3 separate regions of the Homo sapiens genome follow, and regions 1 and 2 are each reported to be linked to region 3. The links are microRNA targets in miRTarBase. Many come from high-throughput screens and were not tested one by one. Region 3 holds a microRNA gene; each other region holds the end of a gene's coding sequence.

Region 1 (6,628 bases), not on the chromosome of region 3:
GAGGCAGGAGAATTGCTTAAACCAGGGAGGCGGAGGTTGCAGTGAGCCAAGATCACACCCCTGTACTCCATCCTGGGTGGCAGAGCGAGACTCCATCTCAAAACAAAAATAAAGTATATACCTACTTTGCGGAAAACAGAAACTTTGTGGTTGCTGAATACTGAGACATTACTCTCTTTTCTGGTGACTCATTCTGGTAATTCAGTTTATCTCTTCTGATAATTCTAATGCCTATCTTTTCCCACTGTTATAAAGCTATGGCTTATTGGTGGCCTCTGTCTTGTCATTTCTGAAGCAGTAGTTAAGTGCATGGACATAAGAGTCACTTAGCCTGTGTTTGTATTGCAGCTTTGCTATTTTTAGCTAGCTGTCTCCACTTCAAAGTAGAAATAATACTTTTCCAGATTTTTAAAATTATTTGTGGGATAACATCTAGTACCTGGCACATCATACTTGTAACAATAAATAGATGAAAATACGGTGTATGTTTTCTTGTTCCTATCCCTGTTTCTAAACATAAGGAAGAAATGGATTGAATGGGTAACTTACCAGGTAATATAAGGTGCCTCTTTGGGGTAGAATTCTTATAGTAGGCCGGGTGCAGTGGCTCACATCTGTAATCCCAGCACTTTGGGAGGCCAAGATGGGTGGATCACTTGAGGTCCGGAGTTCGATACTATCCTGGCCAACATGGTGAAACCCTGTCTCCAGCAAAAATACAAAAATTAGCCAGGCGTGGTGGCATACGCCTGTGGTCCCAGCTACTCAGGAGGCTGAGGCAAGAGAATTGCTTGAACCCGGGAGGCAGAGGCTGCAGTGAGCTGAGATCACACCACTGCACTCCAGCCTGGGCTACAGGGTGAGACTGACTGAAAACAAAAACAGAACTCTTACAGAGAGATCAAACATTGACCTTTGCAATGTCATCTGTTGCTAGGATGATAGTTTTGGTAAGTTATAAAGCATGGCACCCTAAGTATAGGGAATCATCTAAGGGAACTGCTTTCTAGGTATGTTAGAGCTTCGAAAGTCATAATGAATATTTCCATTAATGTGAATTGAGTAGTTATTTTTGACATACTTAGTGATATCTTGGTATTTTTTCTTATAAGTTTAATAAGCTGCTTATATGCTATTAGCAATTAGACTTGATCATTTGATAGAATCTTTAGTTTGTAAATGTTTTCTTTCATTACCTAATTCATAGTTTTATATGGTTCTATCTTACTCTGTTTTTATTAGGATTAGGTTTTGAACTTCAAAAAATGTCCTTTGGCCTCCGTCACAGTGGTCCTGTAATTACCTAACCTATAAGTTTAGTGTTAGTAATAACTTTTTAAAAATATGGCACTGTCTGTGCATTACTGGAATGCCCTAACCTTAGTGATGGTGTATTTTTTAAATGACAGAGTTAACTGAGTTTTATTTCTTTTTAATAGATGGGATTTAGAATTGGTTTCATTTTCTTGTAGACAAAATTAGTAATAGATTTTAAATGTTTGTTACTTCCCTTCTAATTCAACTATGCACATTTTAAATTATATAGTTTTGTGGTAAGGGAACTGTGACAAACTTTTGTGGGACATGTACTTGATTGAATTTTTCAACAGATAAACTTTTACAAAAACTTGCAAATAATTTTTTTTTTCTTTCAAGGTATCCTTTGTGTGGCTGATCAGTGTCACGGCTTAAGAGAACTAGCCCTGAACTACCACTTATTGAGTGATGAGTTGTTACTTGCATTGTCTTCTGAAAAACATGTTCGATTAGAACATTTGCGCATTGATGTAGTCAGTGAGAATCCTGGACAGACACACTTCCATACTATTCAGAAGAGTAGCTGGGATGCTTTCATCAGACATTCACCCAAAGTGAACTTAGTGATGTATTTTTTTTTATATGAAGAAGAATTTGACCCCTTCTTTCGCTATGAAATACCTGCCACCCATCTGTACTTTGGGAGATCAGTAAGCAAAGATGTGCTTGGCCGTGTGGGAATGACATGCCCTAGACTGGTTGAACTAGTAGTGTGTGCAAATGGATTACGGCCACTTGATGAAGAGTTAATTCGCATTGCAGAACGTTGCAAAAATTTGTCAGCTATTGGACTAGGGGAATGTGAAGTCTCATGTAGTGCCTTTGTTGAGTTTGTGAAGATGTGTGGTGGCCGCCTATCTCAATTATCCATTATGGAAGAAGTACTAATTCCTGACCAAAAGTATAGTTTGGAGCAGATTCACTGGGAAGTGTCCAAGCATCTTGGTAGGGTGTGGTTTCCCGACATGATGCCCACTTGGTAAAAACTGCATGATGAATAGCACCTTAATTTCAAGCAAATGTATTATAATTAAAGTTTTATTTGCTGTAGTTCTGATATAATTCTACTATTTTGTGGCACAGAAATTTGATATCTTCAGTCAGTATATGTAAAGATTGTTTATCGGAAGACCCATGAATGAGTTTTGGTCAGAAAATTCCACTTGTTTCCTTAGTGTAATAGCAGTCATATCTCCGAATTTTTTTTAATGTGGTTCGGATGTGAAATAACCAGTTATACGTATTAAACAGTTTACAGTCTAAAGGAAACAAAACCTATATGTTATAATATCCAAGAAGTACTAATAGGTTTTCTGAAATGTTATATTCTCTATGCATTTAAAAAAAAATGTAAACTTGACATTTTAGGGTCTTCAGTTACACATACACCTGTTATAAGGTGTTTAATATAGCTCAGGAAAGTGAGCATTTTGTGAGAAAAATGAATATATCATATCTAATGGAAAAGATTGGATGAATGTTCTCAAATGTTACAAAGCTGTTTAAAGAAAAAGGTATATATAAGTAATCAGAACACTTAGAAGACTGATAGATGTCACACAGTGGTATTATAGAAGGATAATACAGAGCCAAGATCAAATTAAAAGACAATAAATGGAACAGAAGGGAGGCAGTGTTTAGCTTTGTATAAACTTTTAGGTTTGCTCTGTAATCTGCTAAACCATATACATTCTTTTGTGATATGTTATTATGTATGTGGCACTTGAGGCACTGTATGTAAAGTAAGGAATGCTTTACTAGTTCTCCTTGGTTTTATCTTTGTTTAAACTAGCTTTAAAGTATTAAACAATAATTGAAATGAAAAGCTTACCTATTTTAAAAAGCCAAATTTAAATAAATATAGAACTTTAAAATGTTTATCAGTTGTTTCCATGAAAGAATATTAGTTTCCAGTAAATTTTAGTGATGGCTCACTCACTTTTCTATTTTGGAATTACATAGTTATGTAAGTAAAATTTTTAAAAATCATAAAGGGAGCACCATTGTACAGTCTAGCATAAACAGCAAATTTTAAAGAGGACATATTTAAGTTCATAATCATATTTTTCAGTAAATATTGCTCAGTGAACTGGAAAACTTTAATAGAAAAATGTCTGCAGTTTTGTGATTGTTAATTTGGTTAAACCGATATTTTATATTATTTAAGTTAGGTAACATTTTATATTACTTTCATATGAATAAAAGTAATCCATGCATTGTAGAGTCTATAAAATGTTGAGTTTTAAAAGATGATATAAACTTTGATGCTGGGCACTAGTGCTAGTAGATATTACTACCCTCCTGAGGGAAATCAGAAATGATTTAACCCCGGTGGAATACATTAATTCTTAAAGCGGCTCTTTTCAGTGGTGTGACTTTTAGATTGTGTCTCAGTGGTTGAGGAAGCTAACAGTCTTAGATCTACTTTTAAAACGGATGGCCTTCTTAAGAATAAAGCAAAAGGTGATTTTCTACATAATTTTTGCTTTCCAAAAGTGATGATATGCTCTCCTACAGCAACATATGAGAAGAAAAAAGGCTTATCTAGATTCGAAAATTAACAGCAATTATAGTAATATATCCCCTCCTTCTAAATAGTAAAAAGCTCTGATTGTACAAGAATTACCTGTGCTAGTCAAGTTGTTGTTTTTCCTTGAACAACTTTGGAAAAATGGATTTGACAGTACATAATCAGTTCTACTAACCAAAGCTTGTATTTGGAAATTTACTTTTTGTACAAATTGAATTATATAATGCTTAAAATACTTTGTCACTTTATAAGCAAAATGCATAGTACTTAATTTGTTTATACTGTAAAGTATATGTTAAATGCTTTTATCACTTTGAGAATAAAAAGTTACTAATGCTGTTGTATTTTACTTTTTAAAAACTACACAAACATTTGACTTTAAACTTAAAAATGTTTCAAATCCATATTTGATGGATATAATATTTAATATTAAACAATGTTTATGATAGACTCGCCTTTTTGAAGATACAAGGTTAGGCTCATGGAATCTATTCTTGAAATAAGCTCTGATGCCTAAAGAAATAGGAAATTTAAAACCTACCATGAAATATAAATTTTTAAATTTTTATACAGAAAATAATAGGTTCTTTCTGCATTCAGAATGAGAACTTATAAAACAGATTATTTAGACATAGAATCAGTCTTTAAGGGTCCTTGAACCCAACCAGTCTTTTTAGAGATAAATGTCTTTATATAAATTAGAATAGTTTTTCAACTATTGAAATTATTTTCATTGTTTTACTGGCTTTCAACTTATCTTGGTAATTTGGGCTGTTGTAACCATATCAGAAAAAATAGGTATGATTGAAGATTAAGTCAATTTAGTGCATTTTAAGAACTTTAGGCTGAAAGGAAGACGTTCATGTGAAGAAGGTTCAAGCCTCCACTAGGTCCTTTAAAATTTTTTTTTTTTACACTAGGTCCTTTAACACACTATAATTTCTACCCCACACATAGATAGTAATGAGCTTTGCACAGACTCCAACCCCAGTTTGTGGGGCTGGTTTTAATTTTACCAGGCAGGAAAATTCCAGCTGCTTGCTGACACCCAACTTTAAAAAGGGCACAAAGCCTTTTACTCCGAAAGTGAAGTAAGAGCTTATCCTTAGAATAATCAGTCCAATAAAAGGATAAATAATCCTAACTTGTTTTAAGTAGGAGACAAAATTTTGAAAGGAAGGTTTGAAGAGCAGGAAACCACTTGGATAATAAAGGGTAAATATGACGAAGATGCTGGAAACACTTTGGCCAGCCTGTTTGCCTTTGTGAACAGGGAAAAAGCATGTGTGTAGTTTTGGAACATCACTCTTTGTATAGCCTGCCAACTATTTAAAAAATAAAACATCTTACAGGAACTATAATTCCAGGTAATTCATTAAGTGCCACCACAGCAGACCATAAAACTGGATAAGACTTCCTAAGACTTGATTTTTTTCTCCAATTTTTAAGGAGCCACCAATATTGAGGGTTCCAAATAAAGTTAGTAGGTTTCTTCACTGTGTTTTCCTCTACATGCAACAATATATTAGATGACACTTTGTGGGTATACTTACTTAACTAATTTTGTGCCAGATTAATGAGGAGATATATTCACTCTAAAGCCCTAGTCAGACTAAAAATGTATAAATTTTATACATCTACAACATTTTTTTGAGACGGAGTCTCACTCTGTTGCCAGGCTGGAGTGCAGTGGTGCGATCTTGGCTCGTGGGAACCTCCACCTCCTGGATTCAAGTGATTCTCCTGCCTCAGCCTCCCAAGTAGCTGGGACTACAGGCATGCTCCACCACAACCAGCTAATTTTTGTATTTTCAGTAGAGACGGGGTTTCACCATGTTGGCCAGGCTGGTCTCGAACTCCTGACCTCAAGTGATCCGTCCACCTTGGCCTCCCAAAGTATGTGTTAGGATTACAGGCATAAGCCACCGCACCCAGCCTACATCTATAACAATAGCAAAATAGAAACTGCATTTAAGTTGTACTTAAGTTATAATTAAAGTAAATCACATTAAGTCATATTGCTCAAAGGGCAGCAAAACTTAATTGGCAGATTTCTGCGTGGCTATGTTTTGGTTTCTCAACTACTATTTTGAAAGCATGTTCTTGAATCATCTTCACCTGAAAGCTCTACATCTTGTAAGTAGAGCTGACAGGTTTAATTCTTAAGAAATACTTTTGTAAATGTTAATGCTGTCTGTGCTGTAGTTACCTGACTTTATGATGCTTTCTGTCTTCATTTAATTAAGATTCTTAGGAACAATGAAAAATCTTGAATGCTTTTTTTTTGAGACGGAGTCTCGCTCTGTCGCCCAGGCTGGAGTGCAGTGGCGCCATCTCAGCTCACTGCAACCTCTGCCTCCTGGGTTCAAGTGATTCTCCTGCCTTAGCCTCACGTGTAGCTGGGATTACAGGCATGGACCACCACCCCTAGCTTTTTTTTTTTTTTTTTAATTTTAGGAGAAACGGGGTTTCACCACATTGGCCAGGCTGGTCTTGAACTCCCGACCTTCAGTGATCCTTCCACCACCTCAGTTTCGCAAAGTGATAGGATTACAGGCGTAAGCCACTGTGCCTACTCAAAAATCTTGAATGCTTTTTTCACATAACTATTAGAATCTTGTTTAAAAGTTCCAGGTACAGATATCCTCATTTGTTTTCCCTGCATAACCAAGTTCTTTGATTTGCAGTTGACCAAAACTTGGTACAAGAATCTTTGTCTCTTCAAGGCAGTTCTGGAAATCCAAAATCCTGTAGTTTTTCCAGAGCAATTTCCTGAGTTTG
Region 2 (11,697 bases), not on the chromosome of region 3:
AACCTATTTCTGACAACATGAGACGTAGAGAAAGCACTGAACTTCTGTGCCAAGCCTGTGGGAAGGGATTGTTGGGGTCACGGGAGAGGGAAGCAGAAGCCTCTGTCTTCTAAGACTCCAGGTTATTTCAGAATATACAAGTTACATTTTTGATTTAATGAAAGGTTTTAGGTAACACTGTTAGAAACAATTTAAACCTTTACAAAAAATAACTCAAATTGATTCAAAGATGCAGAATTCATCAGATTATCTTATAGAGACCAGTGTGACTTAATTCTCCCTAGATTTTATGAACAACTTTTATTAACAGAAATCAAACTTATTGTCCAAAGTGACAATATATCAAAGAAATACATACCAAAACCTGCTGCCATTATAGTTGTTAACATTTTTATTGCATATTTACAATGTGTGGAACATTATAAGGATTTACAGTAGAAGCCAAATTTCCCAGCCCTTAAAATTTTAATAGGAAAAATCGAATAAACCATACATATTTTTGAAAATGAGCATTAGAAACACACAGATGATTATAATTCTATAGACTAATACAGGTGAATGCTGTATGTAATAGAACAGCTGGGAGAGGTAAAAGAGTGGATAAGAGAGTCATCAGAGTGTGAAAAAACTACAGCTGGGTGGTATTGAATAAAGAGACAATATTGAAAATATTTTTAAACGCTAAAATGTCCCGTAAAAGCATAGCTATCCCCTATGCAAAACTGTGAGGTAGAATTTTTCCCACCCCGTTTTCTGCTCTTCTGGCCACCATTTGGGGGACTTCCCTGTCCAGGTGACTCTCTCTCACATAGCTGTACCTGGGGCTTACTAGCAATACATGCTTTCCACTACCCCCTCAACCTCATCACAGAAATAACCTTTTCTGTTCAATGATCAGTCTTACTTTACCTACTGAAAACGGGTGGTGAAAGTTAGTAACATAAACAAACCAGTGCTGTTTCTTCTAGCTAACATATCACCATGGTTGGGCTTTAACCTTTCAAGGAGTGAAATATTGCTAAAGTTTCAGGCATAGGAACCCCTTGAGGAGCTGTCTGGGGCAGACAGGTCTTTGCTTTCCTCAGATAGTTCCAATTGTCATCCTTGACCATGAACAATGCCATTGTTATTCCAAACTCACTTCTTCTAATACTTCAATATGGATCATAAAAATAGTTTACACCTTTATGCACATCAAAATACAAAATACAGGGCACAATAAAACTGAACTGGAAAAAGGTATGGCAGTTTCTTTTAAAACTACCCTGTGACCCAGCAATTCTAATCCAAGGAATTTACTGCAAAGAAATGAAAACCTATGTTCACAAAGACTTACGTAAGAATGGTCATAGCAGCTTTATTTATAATGGCCAATCCTGGAAACAGCCCAGGTATCTATCAATAATAGGAAATTAAGAAAACAAACTGTAATATTGTCATACAGTGGAATACTACTCAGCAATAAAAAAGAACAGCAATAAAAAAATGAAGCCTTGTAGAAAAGCGTACATGTTGCGTGACTCTATTTATATAAAGTTTTAGAACAGAAAAATCTTATGGTAGAAAAAGGAACAGTGGTTGCCTTTGAGGGTCAAGTAGGGACAGGAATTGACTGGAAAGGGCAGTGTGGAAACTTTCTAGGGTGGTGATAACGTTTCCTATTTCCATAGCACTATATGCATTTGCCAAACCTCAGTGAACACATATTTCTATGCACTTCATTGCATGCTAATTTTATGTAAAAAAGCCAACAATGAACTCTAGTTAATGATATGCAATTTAAAATGCATCAAATAATAATATGAAATGATGAATGGATATGTGACAAAGCAAGCATAGGTAATGCTAATTAGCATCTAGGTAGTGAGTACACTATAAAATTATTTTAACTTTTTAATGTATTTGATAATTTTCATAACAAGATGTTGGGTAAAAATACAGGGTGCAATGTTTACCAAATAGTTTTGCTGAGAATTTCATTACTGATTTTATGACAGTAAGATCATCAAATTCTTCTAAGTGTCCATTGAGAAGTAAGTTTCTCTTAAAGGCTTCTGAGACTATTCGTAAGTGTGATGTGAGCAATCAGTTCTCAAATCTACTCTGGTTTATAACTGTCAAAGTGGTATTTCGATCCTTTCACCTTTACAAAATACAATACATATATTTTGATGATATATTCTGAGCAAATCTGTTGGCCATAAAGATAACATAAGAGTTAAGATGAGAAAACATTCCTAAGAGAAAAATCAAACATACAAATTTTATTTACCCTAACTTCCAGACTAAAAAAGAATCTGTAACTGTAATAGAAAAGAAGTGAGGCTTGGTCATAAATAGTGAGTGGTCTACTGTGTTCTGAGTGGAAAGGCACCCAGTCATCTCTCATCTCTCCCCCAAGACAGAAGCATTTGGACACCCTAAAGACATGGTATTCAGCTTGTGAAGACTTCTAAGGTGCCTCCTGGAGATTCACTGGGAACTGGCTGGAGTTCAATAGCCCTTTTGTCAGAAAGTTTTCTACATGCCTAACTTAAAATCCCTAATAACACTGCTCCTGATAAGTAGCAGTTGATAACTACTTTCAGTTAAGAATTCCTATAAAATTACATATAGGAATTATACATACAGCCTCATAAAGTTCTCCAAAAAAAATCTTTAAAAATGTGCCCACTGCTTTCAAAATATTTCATCATAGTTCTGGCTGTCTTTTGATCTCTAAGTTCTTCATGTTCTAGTACAGGTTCTGCTTTTTCTTGAAGTAGAGGGACTAGTGTTTATTCTCAAGCTTTCATGTTTGCTTTAAAATTCTGCAGTAATGTTGAGTCATATTAAGTGTCATACCCATGAACTTTTTTCAGTCTTAAAGACTCCCCTGTATTTATGCCAGCTCACGGAGTGTCCTTAGTTCTATGCCTCTATTACAGTATCAGTCGGCCATTTTCTGTTCATCATCACTGCCTGAGTTTACCAAGAGACTGCTCCTCTCTAAGCATAGCCAGCACTAATTGTGGTCTTTTCATGCTTTGTTCTGTTTTTTTTTTTTTTTTAACCTCATTATTGGGATACTTAAATAACAGATTTATGCTGTTGTTGTTTCTACTGGTCGGTGCTCGCTCACTAATATCCAATCCTAGTATGATTTTCTTTTACTTGTGTCTATTAACAGGGTTATGTCACACCTTGTCAACCTCAAAACAGATGATACTCATCACTTGTCTTCCATCTTGCTGTTCTATTATCTTCCTACAAAAATAGCTAATTTGTCAGATTTCAAAGCCTTGTTATTTACTGATGAGCTTACCAACTGGACCTTTTGTATCTTCAGTGTGTAATTCTGAAGATGCATTCTGATACACTAGTGAACTGGGGGTGACGGTGAAGGGGTGGTGGAACTAAGGGGGTGGGGCGGCGAACATAGGCAATATGCCATTTCCTCACCATCCCATGCTTGTCATGTGAGACAACAGAAAGGATAAAGAATACTCTATTTTTTATTCTGAAAAGATAATTATAGCAATGATACCTTCCATTCTGTTTATTTCTGGATATTTTGGCTTCAACAATTCTTTATATCATATTTTATTCTTGAAATTGGTATGACTTCTCTGTTTTACAGCCTGAGATAAATTCTCAGATATTTTTTTAACAGTAAATGGCAAAGCCAGATTTTTGAAGCCAAGTATTCAAGCTCCAAACACTTTCCATTATATTCATTACAGTTCTTGTTTTAGCTGGTATGTTCTTTCCTCTACAAGTACTGCCATTATTTATGCTTCTTAGCTAAACCTAGACTTTTCAGTAGCATGTATGAAAGTCAAATAATGTCAAATGGTAAGTTTCTACTTCATTTTATCTCATCAGGGTATTTGTTGCTCTATATACCAGCATAGTATATTTTCTACTCCCAACTGAAGCTTTTCATTTTTAGGACTGAACGTTAACAATAAGTCTACTAATTAGGTTAACTGCTTAGCTATGTTCCAGCCATGTTTTTAATGCTAGAGAATTTTTCCTTTGGGGGCTTAAGCAAAGATATCCTAATCATACAGATCTCACTACTGATGATAATATACTTAATGGTGCTTGTTTCTGCCTGTACCATTCCCTATAGGCTGAAGATGTAAAGGACATTAGCAACCACAGTATGTTTAGTTTTTAGTAGCAACAGTATTTTACTACGGCCTTGTGTACTTTGGGTAGGATGTGAGAAGGGGAGTAGTACATAATAATGCCCAATCTCTATTAGCAAGTAACTTACAATGTAGTAGAGAATTCTGAACTATTTCTTCAAATGTAGACCATAGATTCAGCTAACTTCATAATCACATCATTGGTAACAATGGGTTTAGATCAGAGTATGGTTTACTCATCACTGTTAGTAAGGTAACTTAATTGTCATGCTCACGCTAAGGAGTACGACACTAATAATACCACTCCGTATGTCAGCTAATAAGATAACGAAATAACAAACATGTTAAGACTAGCTAACACATGGGAGCAATAGCCAATGTAAATTTGTATAAAGTGAGAAGTATTCAATCTTCTACCTAACAATGAAGCCTAGACCTGCCATCAATATCCCAGCTGGCAGGCTGAGCAGTTTCATCAACATCACCAATGAGTCACCAGAACTGAACAAAGTGACCAACAATGAGGACTGGGAACAAAGCCAATTTGACCTAAAATGAAGTCATCATTTTTGCATAACTCTGCTGGGTTAGACATGTGCGAAGAACAGATGCCAAACTGCCATTATATATTAAGCTTACACAGGAGCAAACAAATGATAAAAGAAAAAAAAAATCCTCAAACAAACAAAAAAACCCAAAAAAACCAAAACAAAATGAAACTAACCCTGCCAGCGTTTCAATAATTCCCTGAGATGGGCTAAAGGAATGTGGGAGGTTGTGACATATATACCAATTACAAATGAGTGGTTCTTTCAGAGACTTGCAAGCTGATGTTAATTTATGACATAGAAACAGCTTGTGGTTTCAAACACACTGCAGTCACTTTTTTCACACGTTTACCTTAAGTGAGCTTTGACCCTATGGAAGAAAGTTGCTTTAGGGCATTACTGGATTTTCATTCATAACTCTATGTACAGATACACATATGAAAGCAGCAGCAAATTTACAGATGAGGAGCAATGATATTCATTATGTTAAAATCATACTTGGCCTCATGTGAAACACTCAATTTACAAGTAACATTTATGAATCCTGCCTTATTTTACTTTTTGTAGGCAAGATAGCTTAAGGTATATAAAAATTAACTCATTTGGCAATTATAACTCCATGAGTTGATGGCAGAATTACTAACAAACCAGTTCCTTTCTAGCAAAGTCTTAAGAAAAACATTCTAACTACTCTGAAATTCAGAAGAAACAGATATTGAGTATTGATATTTAGTTATTGAGTATAACTAAATATCTAAAGTAGTTAGTATCTAAGAATCTAAGAATAGATTCACTTGTAAGTCAGTTCTAACTTTAAAAAAGTATGTTTAAAACATACTTCAGACTGCAATGTAACAGGGATTATTACTAATGCCTATAATACAGCATTCATATTTAGGAGGAATGGGCATCTGTTATGCATGAGCAAGACTGGGAATAGGAGAAGACAAGATTCCTTCCCTCAAAAGAGCTTACTGGGTACAGACATAAACAACTGTAGAATGTGATAGCACCATCATGAAGACTGAAATAAATAATCACAAAAGTTCATACTCATAGCAGTAAAGCCCCAAAGGACTGAGAAGATGATTCAAGTATAGAAAGAACTTCCTGGATGTTCTCAGAAGCAGTGACCACATAAGACAAGAGGGAGCAGTTGAACTTTGCCCTGAACTTCCTGGCATGTTTGACTAGGAAAAAAGGCTGCACCATTAACCTAAATTGTTCCAGGAGGAAAAGGTGATAAATATTGTCAATCTTTAATCAAGGTTGAAATGTCAACTAGGCAATTAAAAAGAAGTACAAGTCTAGATTTCTGGACCAGGTATGTAATCCAGAACATTGGTATAAAATAAAAACTCTAAGGATGAGATACCGAGAAAAGAGCCAAAAGCATTCTGAGGACAGGATCTGAGAGAGCACATGTTCAGCAGGCACATCTTAAATTAGGGTTATGCGACTGTACTCACAGTTATTTCAGAGGATAGCATCTTCAAGGAAGGAGACACTGTCTAGGAAAGGTTGCTCAATGGTGTAAATGTTGCAGAGAAAAGGGTAAGGGATTCAGACGGAGAAAAAAACCATTCAGTTTGGTAACTGGGAGGCCATTGCTGACTTTCAAAAGAACAGTTTCAGTAGAGTGCTGTGTAAAACCAGACTGCAAGGTGCTGAGTAGTGAGTGATGAGGATGTAGGGGCACTGGATGTGGATTTCTCCAAGAAGTCTGTCAGTCAGTGAAGAAGGCTGGAAAAACTAGCAGGTTAAAAGGGAGGGGTTTTTTTTTTGCATTGGAAGATACACGAGCATGTTTGTAGACCTCAAAAAGGAACCAGTATACAACTCGTTTATAATTTTGTAATGACTACAAGACTAAAAAATAATTTTTAATATTTTAAAAAATGTTCTGAAATAAAAATACATAAAATTTAAATTATATGCATTTTACCATTTAAACTTAATACAAACTTAAAAGAACTAGCATTTCATGATAAATTTTATTTCTAAAGGGGTCATACAGTTCTGTTATTGGACTACTTCAGAATTTATTTTGCTTTTAGACTATAATGAGAAACTAAATTTTATTAACAATTGCTATTTTAGTTCCTGAAAGATTACTCTGATATAAAGGATTACACTGAAGTAATTATGTATGCCTTCTTCCTCAGCCCTCCTCCCCTAAAGACAAAGTATCTTCAGGGTAGTTAATAATTTTGAGAATATTTTTCAAGTTGAAAAAGAGAAAAATTAGAAATAGTATTCCATTATTAATAAGTTCTTAAAGATCTAAATTGTTCACAATAATTTTTCATGATAAAACATGCTTATTTATTATATACACATGCTTACATATGTATTTCCTGTCTAAAATACATGCAACCACCATGAAAAAACAAATATTAAACCATCCTCACAGTCCTAAGAATGCCCTTTTAAATAAGGCACTCATGTTTGGAAATAGGATGTAACTACTAAATTAAATAAGATGTTTAAAGAAGTCTTTTATTAAGCACAAACAACTTTTAATACATTATCAATACAAATAGGAAAAGGTCTTTTAATGACTATGATATATCAAAGATCTGAAAGGCTTTCTCTGTATTGACACAATAAAAATAATCAATTCTGAAGAATTACAAAGTAAAATTTTGAGGACACCACTGTCTACTAACAAGAGTTTAACTACTGTCTAAATTTACTAAATCACCTGTGGAGGAAGGGCAACTTTTTTTTTTCTTTTTAATAGAGAGAATTCCTACTCTTATTAGCACCATTCAAAGCTTATTATCAGTTGTTTGTCTACAAACTGACAGGTCAGGTAAAGCTTTAAAGCAAGTTTTCAGTGCAATGTTTATAGTTCCTTCTTTTAAGATACTTGGAATCTACAGCCTCGAAGCATGTTAAGTAATTATGCCTTGGTAGTAGCAAGGTGTTAACATGTAAAGAGAAATGTGTCATGAAAAGAAATGAGACTTATTTTGGCTGTGAAATGCATCTTAAGGTGTGGTGGCTAATGCTGTAGTATGTTGACAACATGCGGGATTATGAACTGCAAATCTGTAGGTAGCTGGTAGCTATTAGCTCTCTGTGGTCACCATTTCAGGATGTCTCAGCTGCTGCCTTTTGAGATTAACTAGTTTCATCCTGTCTCTGATGTTTTCTGCAGTAGAAGCCATGTCACTTGGACTCCCAAAATATTGTTCGGTTCTAAAAATCAAAACACACAGAAAAACCTCAGATTAATACAAATCTATTAACTGCAGTGAATACAAATAGAAGCAAAAATTTACCATAAAAAATCTACATGAGATAGCCTATGTGTAAATATCAGTTCATCGGTGATCATACTGTTTGAGCAGGAAATTCAGCAGGAAAAACATTTTTTAAAATGGCATAAAATACATTAAGACATGATGAGAAAAATATATTGATGGTATAAAGGTTATATCATGTGTAGTTATGATAATAGCAACAAATTGAACAATGAAACACTGGAAATATGTGGGTCCAGAAGGATGCACAAACATAAAATTTATACAGGTACTTGAGTGCTACCGGCTGGGGACACCACTTGTCTATAGAGCTGGCAAGCAAAATAAATATTCTTTTTAATGTTATGACATTTTTTGGTACATTAACAGATAAAATTATTAATTTTATTCTACTCTCAAAGATACTGTATTCAGAATCACAGAATATTTTTAGAGCTGGAAGATTTCTTAGAAATTATCAGGTTAATCTCTTTATTTTTCAGATCAGAAAAGTGGAGCCTAGCAAGTTAAATGATGTAAGCAAGGTCACCCAGGGAAAAACCAGAATTTGAACCTAGGTCTTTGAGCAGTGAATCCAGAGAGACCATCAATCTCTTTTATTTTACCAGGAGAAGGTATAAAAGAGAAATCTGTCTAACCTGTCAAACAAACTATACATGGCATAAACAGATTACCATTATATTAATAATTATGGAAAACACTACACACAACTTTGGGAAATATTTAATTCAGCAAAATACCTAAAAGAGATATACATAAGTTTTAATATGAATATAAAGTGGAATAAAACAGCAATTCCAAAATATTAAAGGTGGGTGTGAACTTTGAATATATAGTACTAACATTCTTTTATCTTAAAAGGATGGATGAGGAAATGACACATGGACTATCTGTGAAACACAGACGAGAAGCTGAAGCAAGCATACCAGGGAGAGGTGTTCCTAGGCTGACATGGGTAGAACAGGAGACTGACTGTGTGACAACTGGCTGTGAAATGTAGGAATCAGGGAGGGTAAGGGATCCTGGAATGGAACAACCAGAAGCACGCCTGTAATTCTGCTACTAGCTGAATTTTGTTGTCTTTTATTGCAGATGTGTAATACAACTTTAGGTGACTTTAGGCTACCTCTGATTGTTCAAGTTTAGGTGGGGCTTGAGATAACGTAAGTATAGACTATGAATAATATTATTTCAAGGGAATAAAATGCCATCTTTTCAATATCAATCCCAAATAATCACTGGAAGATCATGGCACAGTAGTAGCAGTGCTTATTATGTGTCAGATCTGTTTTAAGTACTTTATACTTATTTAGCTCAGGTAATTCCCACACCCCCATAACCTGAGGAAGGTATGAGTGTTACATGGCAGTTTTTAGATGAGGGAATTGAGGCACAAAGGTTAAGTGGCTTGCCCAAGGTGTTACAGTGAGTAAGTGGTAGAGCTGAGACCTCTGGCTCCAGAGTGCACAGACTCATCACACTATACCACAACGTTAAAGGTACTTGTATTTTTATTTACTGGTTTGGTTACTCTATCATTTGAATTAAATATCCTCTGGATTATCTCTAAATTATTTTCAGTAAGAATCAGGTCTAAATCACCAGGGATGAAGCTCCTCCTGATTCTTTTTTTTTTTTTTTTTTGAGACGGAGTCTTGCTCTGTCACCCAGGCTGGAGCGCAGTGGCGTGATCTCGGCTCACTGCAAGCTCCGCCTCCCAGGTTCATGCCATTTTCCTGCCTCAGCCTCCCGAGTAGCTGGGACTACAGGCACCCGCCACCACGCCCAGCTAATTTTTTGTCTTTTTAGTAGAGATGGGTTTTCACCGTGTTAGCCAGGATGGTCTCCATCTCCTGACCTTGTGATCCGCCCGCTTTGGCCTCCCAAACTGCTGGGATTACAGGCGTGAGCCACCACGCCCGGCTGAAGCTCTTCCTGATTCTTTTCCTGATCCATTTATTTTGCATCAGATTATTTCATATTTTTATCACTATTTGAAATGGAAAGGTGTAAGATAATCAGGACCCCATTCCTTCACACATAAAGAAATTAGAACGCCATATAACACAGTACAAAGGGAATGGGTTTGGAGCCACACAGACATACCTGAGATTGTAAGTTTATGCTAACTCTTAGAAGCTGTGAAATCCTGAGAGCCTTACTTAATCTCTGTGGGCCTCAGTTTCTTCATTTGTAAATCAGGAATAATCATACTGGTTTGGTCCTCTTTGGTCAAAAGTAATGAAGGTGAAATGTTTCACTTGGTACTTGGCATATATTGTGAACTCACTAAACATCAATCCCTTGTCCCCTCTTCCTTTTCCTGAATGAAGCCCCAAGTCACACTATTCCCCACCATCATAGCCAAGGCTAGAACCCAGTGTCTTAATCTAGTCAATGATCATTCTACAACAAGCTGTCAAGAAGTAACGCATCTGTTGTTGGCAAGTACCATTACTGTGGCTAAGAGGTGTGGATTTCTTTTCATTTTAAACTAATTCATCGTAGGAGTTAAAGATGTGGACCAAACCTAATTTACTTGGCTTTTTAAAGAATAGATTTCCTCTTTTAATGATTTCACTTTAAGACCACACCAATAAAAAATAAAATTATAAGAACATGCCCCATACCCATCAGGATAAACTACTGGAACAGTTAATCTATCCAAAAGTGATTTCCCAACTGCTTCAATTTCATCAAATTGCTCCTCATCATTAATAGCTTCAGGCTCTTCTGGACAGTCCTGCAAAATCTGCAACAAATAAAAGAGCAACATCAATCAAGAGACACAGACAGGTCTGCAGTTTCAGAGGATCACCCCACCCCACAAAAAAAAAGAGAGAAAAGAAAGACACAGAAATGGAATCAAGCTCATACAAATTTGGTAGATTAAAGGCATTTTCTTGTTCTTAGCATCTTCAGGTATACCACTATATAAGATTGATCTATTATTGGCAAAATTCTTCAAGAAATTCAAACAAACAAAATGAAATACATAATTCCTACTAACAATATGGTGATTTCCAAGAAAGAAAATAACTAGACTACTATTTGGAAAATAAGTTCAATCTGTCCTTAAGAAGTATTCTTTCATTTATATTAAGTAACCATTTATTGAACAGTTTATGTTTATGTAGCAGTCTGGAAGGTGAAGGAGGTATAGACTGTGTTCTCAAAGAGCATATAGACATTACAAATGAAAAATTATATAAATAAAAAACAACAAAGAGTACAAATAAATAACTGATGTGACAACTCAGCTAGATGATAATATTTAACAACTGATCTGCTGGCTTGAGTTAACTGCCATAAAATGATTAGGTTATAATTCAAATATGGTAATCTCTATAGTCCTTGATGAGATACTGTTCTTCACTCCACCCTAACCATTACCATTTAAATTAAACCACAAGAACTGCAAAATTTGAGAGAGAGAATAAAAAGTATTCATTTTTACAACTTTTTTTTGCATTACACTTTATCTAATCATGTTTACTTCAGCATTACTCATGAACGGACATTTTTGTATTTTAAAACTCAAGATTTAATTTAGATATTTTTCTAATCATTATACTATACAATTTGCTTATAGTTGTGGTTATTTATATTTATGCTTATGGTATAAAATAGAATACAGTCAAGAGGAAAGTAATATCTGATAACAAAGGGCTTTACTTAGGTTTGTACAACAAGCTCCAGGAGGTGGAGCCTGCAGTGAGCTGAGATCATGCCACTGCACTCCAGCCT
Region 3 (11,697 bases):
TGTTTTAAGAATTTTGTGAGCCCTATGTTAAACACAGCAATTATTAAAAATTCAGTTACATAGCCTTATAATTAAACAAATTATATTAAAGGCAAATGTATCAAATATGTTACATGTAACAGTTCCTCATTCTTTTACTACATTTTACTATTATCTATGCCCTTTAGGTTATTCATATCGTATCTGTGGGGTGAAAATACACATCTCCTCCCAGCTCTGTTTTCAGTGACATTATGCTGGCAGCTTGAAATTGGCCTTCTTCGGTGTATTTGCACCACAGAACTCAGCAAATGCTACAAATTAAAGATTTTTTCACCTACAGAGCCAGATTTTGAACATTTAATAGCTTACTTCTAGAGAAGGGCGGATGCTAGGATTGCCAGTTTCTAAGCATCTCTCTCAATTCCCTCTGTAGGCTCTAGGACACCACAGGAAAAAAAAATGTAGTTTAAAGAAAGGAAAAAAGCTGACTTAATTATATTGTGGCTGTGAACATGCAAAGGTAAAAAGAAGAAATCAAAAGAAAGGTCAAATTCTTTAGCATGAACACATACATCTTACAAATTTGGTTATGAGACTATAAGCCTTTATTTTCTTCCAATTCCTTGGAAAAATAACAATAGACTAGATCCAAATAATTATTCTACCTGGCTATCTTGTTTTGCAAGCTCCTTTACATGAAGATGATTACAAAGATGAGGCTGTATAATCTGTGTATAAGTATCTCCAGATTACATCTTTATTGTTTAGCTCAGAAAATGGTTCCTCCATCTTCATTGTTATTGATGAATGAGAGACACCTCTGCACCTTCTGTGAAATACAAGTGATCATCTTGCACAACAGTACCACATTTAGCATTTACTTTGGCAAATTTAATTATAGACATTTATCCTGCTTACTGTCTATAAACTATGCTTTTATCTGTAACACTAACATATAATTTGATATACCCCCAAAGTAGAAGAATTGCACAGTGCCTTTAATAATATCTTTGCAATGAATATAAATAATTTCATTAGTGATGGATTATTTCAGCCTTTCAAAAATGAAATGATCAGAATTTTTTAATGTTTGTTAGAAAACAAAGTTCTCTTTCCTTAAGGGACTCCAGCGTATCATTTTAAATAATAATGTGTATAGTCTTGTGTCTGTCATTCAGCTATTTATTCATGAATTTAATTTTCTTGATTCATTTAGTCAACAGCTATTATGTAACTATTGTTTAAAAATTAGATACTGATATTCCTTAAGAAGCCTTATTTTTAAATAATCTGAAATTTAAATCATCAAAGTAAGGTGTCTAAATTGTAGTATAATAGGCTAATTAGACCAGTTAGTAATTTTTTCCCTTACTTTGAATTATATGTAAAGGGAGCAAATGCTGGCCTTAAGAATTTTCACTTCAAAGTTATAAAGTATTTACAAATTCCATAGATGGAGATTCAATTTAGAATACTAGATGAAAACTGTGTTTCAATCATTCACCTGTATGATTGATTTTTCTCTATAGTTGATAGTAAATTCAGTGATTTTTTGGAAATATGTATGTGAAGGAAGGATGTAAGTCTGTGACATCATGCAGTTTGAAGTCTACTTTTCCTTGGGGTATTATGCAGATATGTAGATTTGCCTATTATTTTCTTTAATAAAATTGGTGTTTTTTTTTCTGAGACTATTTTCCAGGAATGTAGTTTTGATCTTAGAATTGATTTTTTCCTCCAGACTGAGGAGGACGCAGATGTCAAGAAGTTTCCTATGGGATATGGCTTGACAGAGGGACACACAACAGGAGTCGGAGGTTACAATAAGAAAATATACTTACTCTATGACATGTGGGTCTTGTAAGGAACTGACATTGATGGGAAGTGATGCTTTTTAGCCAAAGGAAGAAGTATCTATCATGCTGTCACATCAGATTCGGTTCAAACTAAGCAAACATTTGTGTTATGGTACTATTCTTGGGAAATATATTTCTGAATGTGCTCTTGGCTCTTTAGATGAAAAGTCATAAATGATCATAAAATACATAAAATGGTACCTGTCATAATAAGCAAATGATAAAATAAATTTATGCTTATTATAACTATCAACATCTGTATGTGTAAAATAGATAATAAAGCAAGTGTCTGAACAATGCAGCACATACTAGCTTCACCTAATGCAAGCAATCAGCTATTCTTTGCCTGTCTTTGCAGAAGATTGTGACCAATGATATAATGAGTTTGAGGAGGCTGTTTTTATGATTAATTCATAAATAAGTTAATCTAGACTTATTTCAGGTCTGGGTTTTACATTTGATGACTCATTTTCAGAGCCCAGAAAATAATATTTAAGGGAGTATTAATTGGATTGAAACTTTTAACTGTGTGGGTGTTACACAAATTCTATTTAATCCTCAGTGTGTTAGATTAATTTTCCAGTATTAACAATTTTAATTCATTCTACCTTTATCAGTCTTCAGCCTCTTCTTATCGCATGCACAACAGAAAAACAGAATCACCAAAAATGTATCTTTAGACTGTAATTCTTATTTTGCTGACTCAAAATATGTGCCAAAAGACTGATAAAAGTCTGATTTTCCAATAGTTCATTTGACGTTTGAGTCCTTTTACGTCATCTTCAAGCTCATGCTTGAACTTTTCTAATGACAGGGATATTTTTGTCTTTAAGCAACCATTTTTGTCATATGTAGGTCTAACTTTCAGAAATGTATATTCAAAGTTCTGTCCCTCTATAACGTCTGCTCATTTGTCATAATTGTTTCCCCTGGGACTATAAATACATCTCATGAGTTTAGTGACTTTCTCTTGCGGCATGACTTTTAATATTTGGGGATGTCTGTCAAGGGCCCCCCTCCCCCTTCTCTCCACCAATGCTTCTCTTCTCCAAGTAAAATATTCTTAGTTTCTACAAATATTTCTCTTTGCTTGTCAGCTCCCTACTTGACTTGTCATCCTCCTCTGCATAGTTGCAAATGTCATGTGACTATTAGACATCCCTTAAGAGTACCTCTCTCATCTTAAGCACAGCATTATTATTCAGATGTGCTACAATCACATTGATGTTGTGGGTGGTCACATTATCTTATGGACTTATTATGGATCTGATTTTCCATGAAAACCTATAAGTATTTCATGAATGATGCTGACAAACTGCATGTCTTTCATTCTCTTCATGCCAGGCTCTGTCTGACTCACATGCAAGACCTCTTCATGTATCTTTGTTACATTTTATCTTACATTAACCCCACTGCTACAACCTCTCAGGGTACCTTGTGTCTTCATGCACTTATTCAACATCAATAAATGAAGGTTAGTTGTACACCTGGAATGTGTCCGGCTAAATCGAAAATGCTAATTCTGTGGCTCAATTATTTGACACACCATTCCAGCAATCTTCTCTACCACTTTATTTCATCCACCATACCCAGGCCATATTTTAATCTTGTTTTCTTCTCCTCGAAGCGACTTTCACTAAAAACCTTAAACTTCAAAACCATCCTATATGACAGCCCCTGTGTTCATCTGAATCTCTAATGTCTCCGCTCTCAATAAACTGATTAGCTGATAAGCCTCATAAACACTTTCAACTTGCTCCTTTCTTTTTTTTTTTTCCCCAGGTATTATTATTCTTATTTTCTCACTCTCCTTTTAAAACTGGACCTTGTGGTTGATCAAGTGACTAACCATATTCTGCACCCTCAAGATTTATTTTATTTTTGCCTTTATACTATCATCATTTATCTCATATAGTCCTGATGAACTACCTTGCCTGTTCTTAAGGTCAAGCTAATCAGTGCTATGGGAGAAAATCCTATAATGGCTGAAAAGCATAGATATGAATGACCCTAAAAAAGCCACTAAACCTTTCTACATGTTGACGTTCTCCCGTTCTTTACATGTGTCATCATACCAGTTATTAATCCAATTCACCTGTAGTGTCCTCCCTATTTCTTCATGTAATTCACAAAAATAATTCAAATATTCTGCTTTACCCCAAAATACACATTTTTTTGCCTATATCCAAAAGGTCAAGTAATATGCAGGGATAGATCTAGCTCATTTTCATTCAAACTAAAATCATATCAAGAAACAGTTTTCAGTCTTTCTATACACTTTTTCCCTAGAATATTTGAAGCCGATTTTTTTAGGTAATTATTCCAGGTTTCCTTTTCATCTTATTTCCTGCGGTTTCAAGGTCAACATATTTATCATATTTTCATTCAAAGCCATAACAAAAATGAGTGATAAACAGAAAAATGATTTTCCTGCTTGACTTCCTGTTTATTCTGCTAAACTATAATCTGATTTTACTTAAAACTCTTCCGAGTTACCTTTGTGAATAATTCACCAAGCATGTGAACCACTGCTTATATAACTTCATGATTGTTATAAACACCTTTTTTATGTGGCATAGTTCAAGGCTCGAACCAAAAGTGAGATACAGGAATGAAGCAAATATGTTTGTCACTCTTTCTCATCTCAAAATGTATTGGCCAGGCCAGGTACAGTGGCTCAAGCCTGTAATCCCAGCACTTTGGGAGGCCGAGTTGGGTGGATCACCTGCGGTCAGGAGTTTTATATCAGCCTGGCCAACATGGTGAAACCTTGTCACTACTAAAAATACAAAAATTAGGACCAGGCGCAGTGGCTCATGCCTGTAGTCCCAGCACTTTGGGAGGCCGAGGAGGGCAGATCACCTGAGGTTGGGAGTTCGAGACCAGCCTGACCAACATGGAGAAACACCATCTCTACTAAAAATACAAAATTATCTGGGCATGGTGAGGCATGCCTGTAATCCCAGCTACTCTGGAGGCTGAGGCAGGAGAATCGCTTGAACCTGGGAGGCGGAGGTTGCAGTGAACTGAAATCGCACCATCGCACTCCAGCCTAGGCAACAAGAGTGAAACTCCATCTCAAAATAAAATGAAATAAAAAATACAAAAATTAGCCGGGCGTGGTGTTGGTCACCTGTAGTTCCAGCTACTCGGGAGGCTGAGCCAGGAGAATCGCTTGAACCCAGGAGGCAGAGGTTGCAGTGCGTAAGATCACACCACTGCACTCCAGCCTGGGCGATAGAGTAAGACCCTGTCTCAAATTAAAAAAATAAATAAATAAATAAATAAAATATTGGCCAGTCAGGTTTTTTTCTGCTTCAAGACCCCAGATATCACTCAACCCCTGGCCCAGTGTCTCACACAAGTCATAAGTAGGCCCTGTGAAAACCCTCACTCTCTTAAACAGTGACTTAGGGTCACGTGTTTAAAAGAAAATTAGTTATAAAATCACCCAAGCCCCTCATTTTCAAGACTGTGTAAAATATAGGCACATCCAAATCCCTTGGCAATTTAGTGACAAACCTGAAATCTGACTCCAGTTTTTTACCTAAACCAGTGCTTACTCTGGATTATATCAAAAGAAAACACTGAGGAACACACATGTGGATTCTCAGTGAAGTGATAATGCCTTTTAATAGCTAGATCTCTTGAAGAAGTAACAATTTGTTCTGTAATTATTGATTTAAAGCTGAAGCTTTTGATGACTAGATGGTTTGTTCCTTTCTTCTTCTCTTCCTCCTTGTAAATATATTCATTTTATCACTTACACAAGACAAATATGTGTCACAAACGGACAGTCATATAATTTTTGTTTGAAAAACCTCATGAGGATGGGTGCCCTCTAGATAGCCAATTTCCATTCTTTTCATTCTAATGTTAATGATGTTATTTAAAGTTATTGGATACACAGCATCAAATGTCATTATTTCAAATGACTTCATGACACAGGGTTCATTGTGTAAGGAATATCAAGTAGAGGTTCTCAGGTGTTGTCCCTTTAAAATGCAAGGGGAGAAATGCAATTGCTATTTTTTATTTAGTTACCTAATGCCTGCCCATCATGTCTTTTTGAATTTGGCCCAATAACTTATAATTAAAAGACTCATTATCCCTGCTGGATGTGGGCACAAATTCACATTATTTCCATGGAAGCCTGTCTGCTGTCTCACTTTAATGAAAATTTAAACCCTTTAGAATGACATGTGATGCTTGGAATTATTTATCTTTTGTCTGAGTAGAGTTACAAGAAGAAAGAACTCCTAGAAAAATAAGTCACTATTTCTTTCTGCAGATTCTTGTCTTCCAAGTAAGCATTCTTTTTTGTTTGTTTCTGGAAAGATTGACAGAGAAAACTATGAAAGTATCAGTTAGAGCAGAAAAAAATTATGGACTCTCCCACCTGTGCACTTTTGACCTGGTATTTGGCTATCTTTTGTACATGTAGTAAAATATACATAACACAACATTTACCATTTCAACTGTTTTTAAGTGTACAATTCATTGACGTTAAGTATATTCATAGTTTTGTAACCATCAACATCATCCATCTCCAGAACTTTTTCATCATCTCAAACAGAAACTCTACACCTCTTTAACAATACATCGCCGTTCCCCTCTTCCCTAAGAAACTGGTAACCACTATTCTACTTTCTGTCTCTGAATTTGCCTATTCCAAGCACTTCAAACAAATGGAATTACACAATATTTGTCCTTTGGTGTCTGGCTTATTTTGACATGTTTCTGAGATCCATGCATGGTATTTAATATTATGGTAAATTTTTTGTTAAGTATAATTCCATTGAATGGATACACCAAAGCATCTTTGATGAATATTGGATTGTTTCCATTTCAAGGATATTACAGATAAAACTGCTGCCACACTGTTGGAAAAGGCTTTACTGGACATAAACTTTGTCTCGTGTAGATATTTAGAAGTAAAACTACTGAATCAGAATTTAGATGTATGTCTTACTTAATTAGAAATAATTTTCCTAAATGATTATAACATTTTGTATTCGCAACAGAGGTATATGGAAATTCCAGTTGTCCAATCCCAACCAACACATGGAATTTGTTGACATCTTAATTTTAGCAAATCTAATAGGTATACAGTTACATCACCTTGTGGCTTTAATTTGTATTTCTCTAATAACTAAAAGTGTTGAATATTTTTTCATATATTTGACCATTTGAAGATTCTTTTTTGCACATTACTTTAGGTTGAATTGTTAATCTTCTAAATTATCAATGTGTAGAAATTCTTTACACATTTTAGGAAAACATTTTAATTATATTTTGGTATTGTTAACATTTTCTACAAATTGGAGGCTTACCTCTGTAAGTTGGAGGCTTTGGTATTGTTAGTATTTTATACAAATTGGCGGCTTACCTTTTTACTTTTTTAATGCTGTCTTTTGATGAGCAGATGCTGTTTTTATTTTGTTAAAGTCAGAGTTATTGATTTTGACCTTTTATGATCTACTTAAGAAAGTTTTGTTTACCCCAAGGTATAAAGATATTCTTCTATGTTTTACTAGCTTTTACATTTAGGTCTGTGATACACCTTGAATTAATTTTTGTGTATAGATTAAGGAAGGGGCCAAGGTTATTTATATAGGTATCCAGTTTTGTCGGCACCATTTATTAAAAGAGTTCTCTTTCCTCATTGAATTATTTAGTGCCTTTCTTGAAAACAGTTGACCATATATGTATGCACATTTGTGTCTATTTCTGGATCTTATTCTGTTCCATTGATCTATTTGTTTATCCCTATGGTAGTACCATGTGGTCTTATTTGCTATATCTTTATAGCTCATCTTGAAATCAAGCAGTATTAAGTACTCTAATATGGTTCTTTTTTTTCCAAAATGGAATGTAACTATTTATATATGTTTAAAACCGTTACTCTCCACAAATATATATATATTATATATTCTACTGAGAGTACAGATCTTTATATATATGATCATTATATGTATGATGAGATCATTATATGTATGATCTGGACACCCAGTAGAATCTAGCTCATTAGATTGTCCTTCACAGTTAAACAATGCAAAGCCTATAGAAGAACATTATGCTAAATATGTGGGTGTGTGGGTGACTGAGATAAAATAGAAAAAAAGGCTAAATGTTTTTGGGGTACCTGCTATCTGCCAGTATTCTGCAAAGTGTTTTATATATCTTGGCATATTTGAATTTAATTTTCACAAAAATTCTGTGAAGTAGTTATTGTCTCCATTAGTGGATGAACAAAGTAAGGGTTAGAGAAGTAATTTGTTCAAAATATTTAACTCGAATTCCTTTCATCTTTGATGGTCACAGCCAATCAGTAGTCATATTGAGTGCTCATGCAGGGTGCCTGCTTTGTGGTTGACAGCTGGATTTTCAGCTAGTGACAGGTTTGCTATATTAACCTAGTCAGTTGTCACACTGACTAAACATACAATTTAGAGCGTAGTTTTAATAATTCTGTGACAACTCAGTATACCTTCCATAAAAAAATGCATCTAAAAGTACATTATTTATAAGTGAGTTCTTGTGAAAGAAATCAAATTATAATTCCCATTGTTTTACAAAATCATTATTGAGTATACAAAGTTAAATAAAAATAACATTTATTTCATCAAAAAATGTCTGACAAACCGAGCTGCTGGCATTAAGCATTACTAGTTGTGAAATTATGTGTTAGTCACAAAATCAATTTAAATAAACAACTAGATTATCATCTTGCCACCCCTGAAAACAAAGACCTTAGCACAGAATCAGATTTAATCTTCAAATCTATTACTTACCAAGAAAACCTAAGAACACAATTTGTTTGAAACCTTTAAACCTATTACTTTCTAAAAGAATCTCATGGAGCACTGTGCTTGACCTTCACAGGATAAACTTTGTAGATGTCAGGGGTTCAAAGCAATTTGTTTCTTATATTCCTTGAATTTATCTACTATATGTTGCTGATTATTTCCTTCATGACAGCTGTTTTTACTTATGACACACAGAAATGCATTACATTTTGGAGAATTGCACTTGATTCTACTCTTCCAATAGATATTCTAATTTATTATCTGATACGTAGTGTTGGGTTCTAGGTGAATCATGACTCCTAGAATTATTCAATGTGAACACTTTATTGATGATAGATGTTACATTAACATATGGTAGTTGTGTTCCATAAGACTGTAACTATTTTAGAAATATGTTCACAATGAGACATTAATCTTTTAGTTATGCATATTAATCCTTATAAAGTTTTATGATATACACAGAATTGAAATATTTCCATTTTCATTTAAGATGAAGAAACAAAGAATCAGAGATATTGATATTTGTCCAAGCACTCACACATTTCAGGGGTCCCTTTTTCTTATAAGCTTTTTGTGTCCAAGCTCTTATAAGCCTTATGTGTCCAAGCTCTCACACATTTCAGGGGTCCCTTTACTTAGAAGCCTTATAATACTAGTAAACACTGAAAATGTAAAGATATATGAGAAGTATGAGAAGTATCATTGCAACTAAGGAACTCAGAGCCTAGAGGACTGAGACAAGCAGCCAAACATGTAAAAGTGAAATTGAAAAATGCTGTCATACAGGTATACTAAGAGGAGAGGAGAACCTCATTGTATGGGTAAATTTTCCTACATAAAGTGAACCCAGAGCAATCAGACAGCTAATATTTATTGAAAGGAACAATGTCTGTTATGTGTCATGTAAATTAGCCATACCTAGTATTATTTAACCTTCACAAAACTCCAGCAAACTATCGCAAGGACAAAAAACCAAACATCGCATGTTCTCACTCATAGGTGGGAATTGAGCAATGAGAACACCTGGACACAGGAAGGGGGACATCACACACCGGGGCCTGTTGTGGAGTGGGGGGAGGGGGGAGGGATAGCATTAGGAGATATACCTAATGTAAGTGACGAATTAATGGGTGCAGCACACCAACATGGCACGTGTATACATATGTAACTAACCTGCACGTTGTGCACATGTACCCTAGAACTTAAAATATAATAATAATAAAAATAAATAAATAAAAAATAAAAATGAAAAAAAAAAAACTCCAGCAAAGTCCATTACTGTTCTCCATTTTATAGTTACAGAAACTGGAGGGAAGAAAAACCTAAAGAATAGAAAAGATGAAATAACCCTTTATGGTTCCTCCCAGGTAGATCATTTTGGGGTTTTTCAAACCACAGAGTCACTGCACCATGAGTTACTTCAGTTTTCTTCCTTGTTTCCAGTTAATCATATTCTCTGCTCTAAGCTCTTTAGTGATAGCTCATGTCACAAAAGGCCAGGATGAGAGATGATGGTTGTGCTGATAGGTGAGTGAATTCACGGAGCAGAGACAGAAATGAGGGAGAACGCACCCAGAGAAAGGTGCACAGGGGCTTACATCACTGGGCCCTTTGATTGGTGTTTTTGACATGAACACAAAGAAAAATATTTGAAAATGTCAAACAAAACCTCACTGATTTTCTACCTTGAGTAGAAGAATTCAAATGTTTTGAATGCTTAATATTTGATCCCAGGAATCAGAGAATTGTGGGAAAAGACCTCCAATTTTTCTTGGTTTCAATTCAAGGGTGTTCAAAATGATATACAGTATTTTACATGGCCTATTCAAAAAATTATTTTATTTTGAATAACCAAGGGCTGATAATATAATTCATGCCTTTTATCTTAGCATGTAAAAGTGCTACATAAGTAGAATGGTAGCATAATACACATTTTAATCAGAACAAGGGCAGAGCAACGAAGGCAATGCTTTTTATTTTTGTTAGAGGAGAATGGTGAGAAAATATAAAAAAACATTTAGACATTCAAAATTCTAGTTCTAGAGTTAAAAAAAAAAAAAAAAAAAAAAAACAACAAAACACTTTTTCCCCAATGTGTAATATGCAATCAAAAGCACTCATGCCTCTACTGTTTTCCAGAAGAATAAATATGAAAGTTATAATTACTATGAAAGTTATAATTACTTTTATATTAGACTAGATTTTTTTCTGGAGATGTTTTTAAAAGGGGAAGAAAAATCAGATAAACTTATAGACATGCTCATATTTAAAAATAAATGAAAAAGCCACAAAAACAGTCAATAGCAAGCTTCCATCTTTACTCCTTACACTGAATATTTTCCCATTTCTGAGGCTGCCTCAATTCATCTTATGTCTTATCAAGAATTGTGGGATCAACAATCATCTCTGTGATTGTCATAGTTACAATAAATTTTATATATGAAAAGCAGAGGAATAAAAGCTACCAATCCTGGGTTTACCACTGGAAGGATCAGAAGGAGCTGTCCCCTGTTATCCAGGTAGGAATATTTGTAGACAATGTATTAAAAAGTGATCTTCAAGGCATAAAAGGTCTTGGTGTCAGACTCAATATTAAGTCCCTCTTTTCATTTGCTTGACTTTTTATAGCTAATTAACAATCTAGCCATTGTTTCCCTTATCTGTAAAATGAGACTAATACTAGGTTCCAACTCTCATGAGATTGTCGTTGGGACTAAATAAGATAATGCCTCTAAATGCACAGCACCTAGAAGAGGTTGTCATTATCATTTTTATCATTTAATATTTCCATTTTTCTCTGAGGCTATGGCTACACTCACAAACTGGCTTGTCAGATTCTATTTTTAAAAAGATTGCATTTAGTTGATCCATTTTTCAGATATTTGTAATAGTTACAGATAACATTTTCACTTTTAGAGAGTCTTGTTGTACTGTTTGCATATTGTTTAAATGCATAGAAGTATTGTTAGGGCACTAGCCTATGCTCTTGGTGCAGAAGAGCCACTGAAATGTGCTGGGGAGTTGGAAAGTCCTCAGCAATATTACTTACC

The links. The annotated mature microRNA hsa-miR-4528 reads UCAUUAUAUGUAUGAUCUGGAC and lies in region 3 at 7,824-7,845, shown strand. An mRNA with a match to its seed (bases 2 to 7 or 8) in the 3' UTR can be bound and repressed. Matches are read on the target gene's strand: a 7mer-m8 pairs with bases 2 to 8, a 7mer-A1 pairs with bases 2 to 7 and ends in A, and an 8mer does both.
Region 1: the mRNA of FBXL3 is a reported target of hsa-miR-4528. Seed matches in the 3' UTR shown: 7mer-m8 at 4,067-4,073.
Region 2: the mRNA of SESTD1 is a reported target of hsa-miR-4528. Seed matches in the 3' UTR shown: 7mer-A1 at 5,160-5,166, 7mer-m8 at 4,754-4,760, 7mer-m8 at 3,706-3,712, 7mer-A1 at 3,055-3,061, 7mer-m8 at 418-424 and 7mer-m8 at 372-378.

What each region holds. Positions count from the first base shown.
Region 1 is chr13:77,002,817-77,009,444 of GRCh38, reverse strand. It overlaps FBXL3 (F-box and leucine rich repeat protein 3), which reads left to right. Exons shown (of 5, transcript NM_012158.4): 5 at 1,657-4,185. The coding sequence ends at 2,300. CLN5 (CLN5 lysosomal BMP synthase) reads right to left here. Exons shown (of 4, transcript NM_006493.4): 4 at 4,328-6,628. Among named protein-coding and RNA genes, the nearest start is that of CLN5, 14 kb to the right of the region's middle. RefSeq lists an enhancer at 11-80.
Region 2 is chr2:179,102,144-179,113,840 of GRCh38, forward strand. It overlaps SESTD1 (SEC14 and spectrin domain containing 1), which reads right to left. Exons shown (of 18, transcript NM_178123.5): 17 at 10,581-10,702; 18 at 1-7,885. The coding sequence ends at 7,756. Among named protein-coding and RNA genes, the nearest start is that of CCDC141, 58 kb to the left of the region's middle. RefSeq lists silencers at 4,385-4,585, 5,665-5,865.
Region 3 is chr18:53,229,333-53,241,029 of GRCh38, forward strand. It overlaps MIR4528 (microRNA 4528), which reads left to right and starts at 7,769; the gene lies at 7,769-7,858. The region is part of intron 12 of DCC (DCC netrin 1 receptor); the gene reads left to right.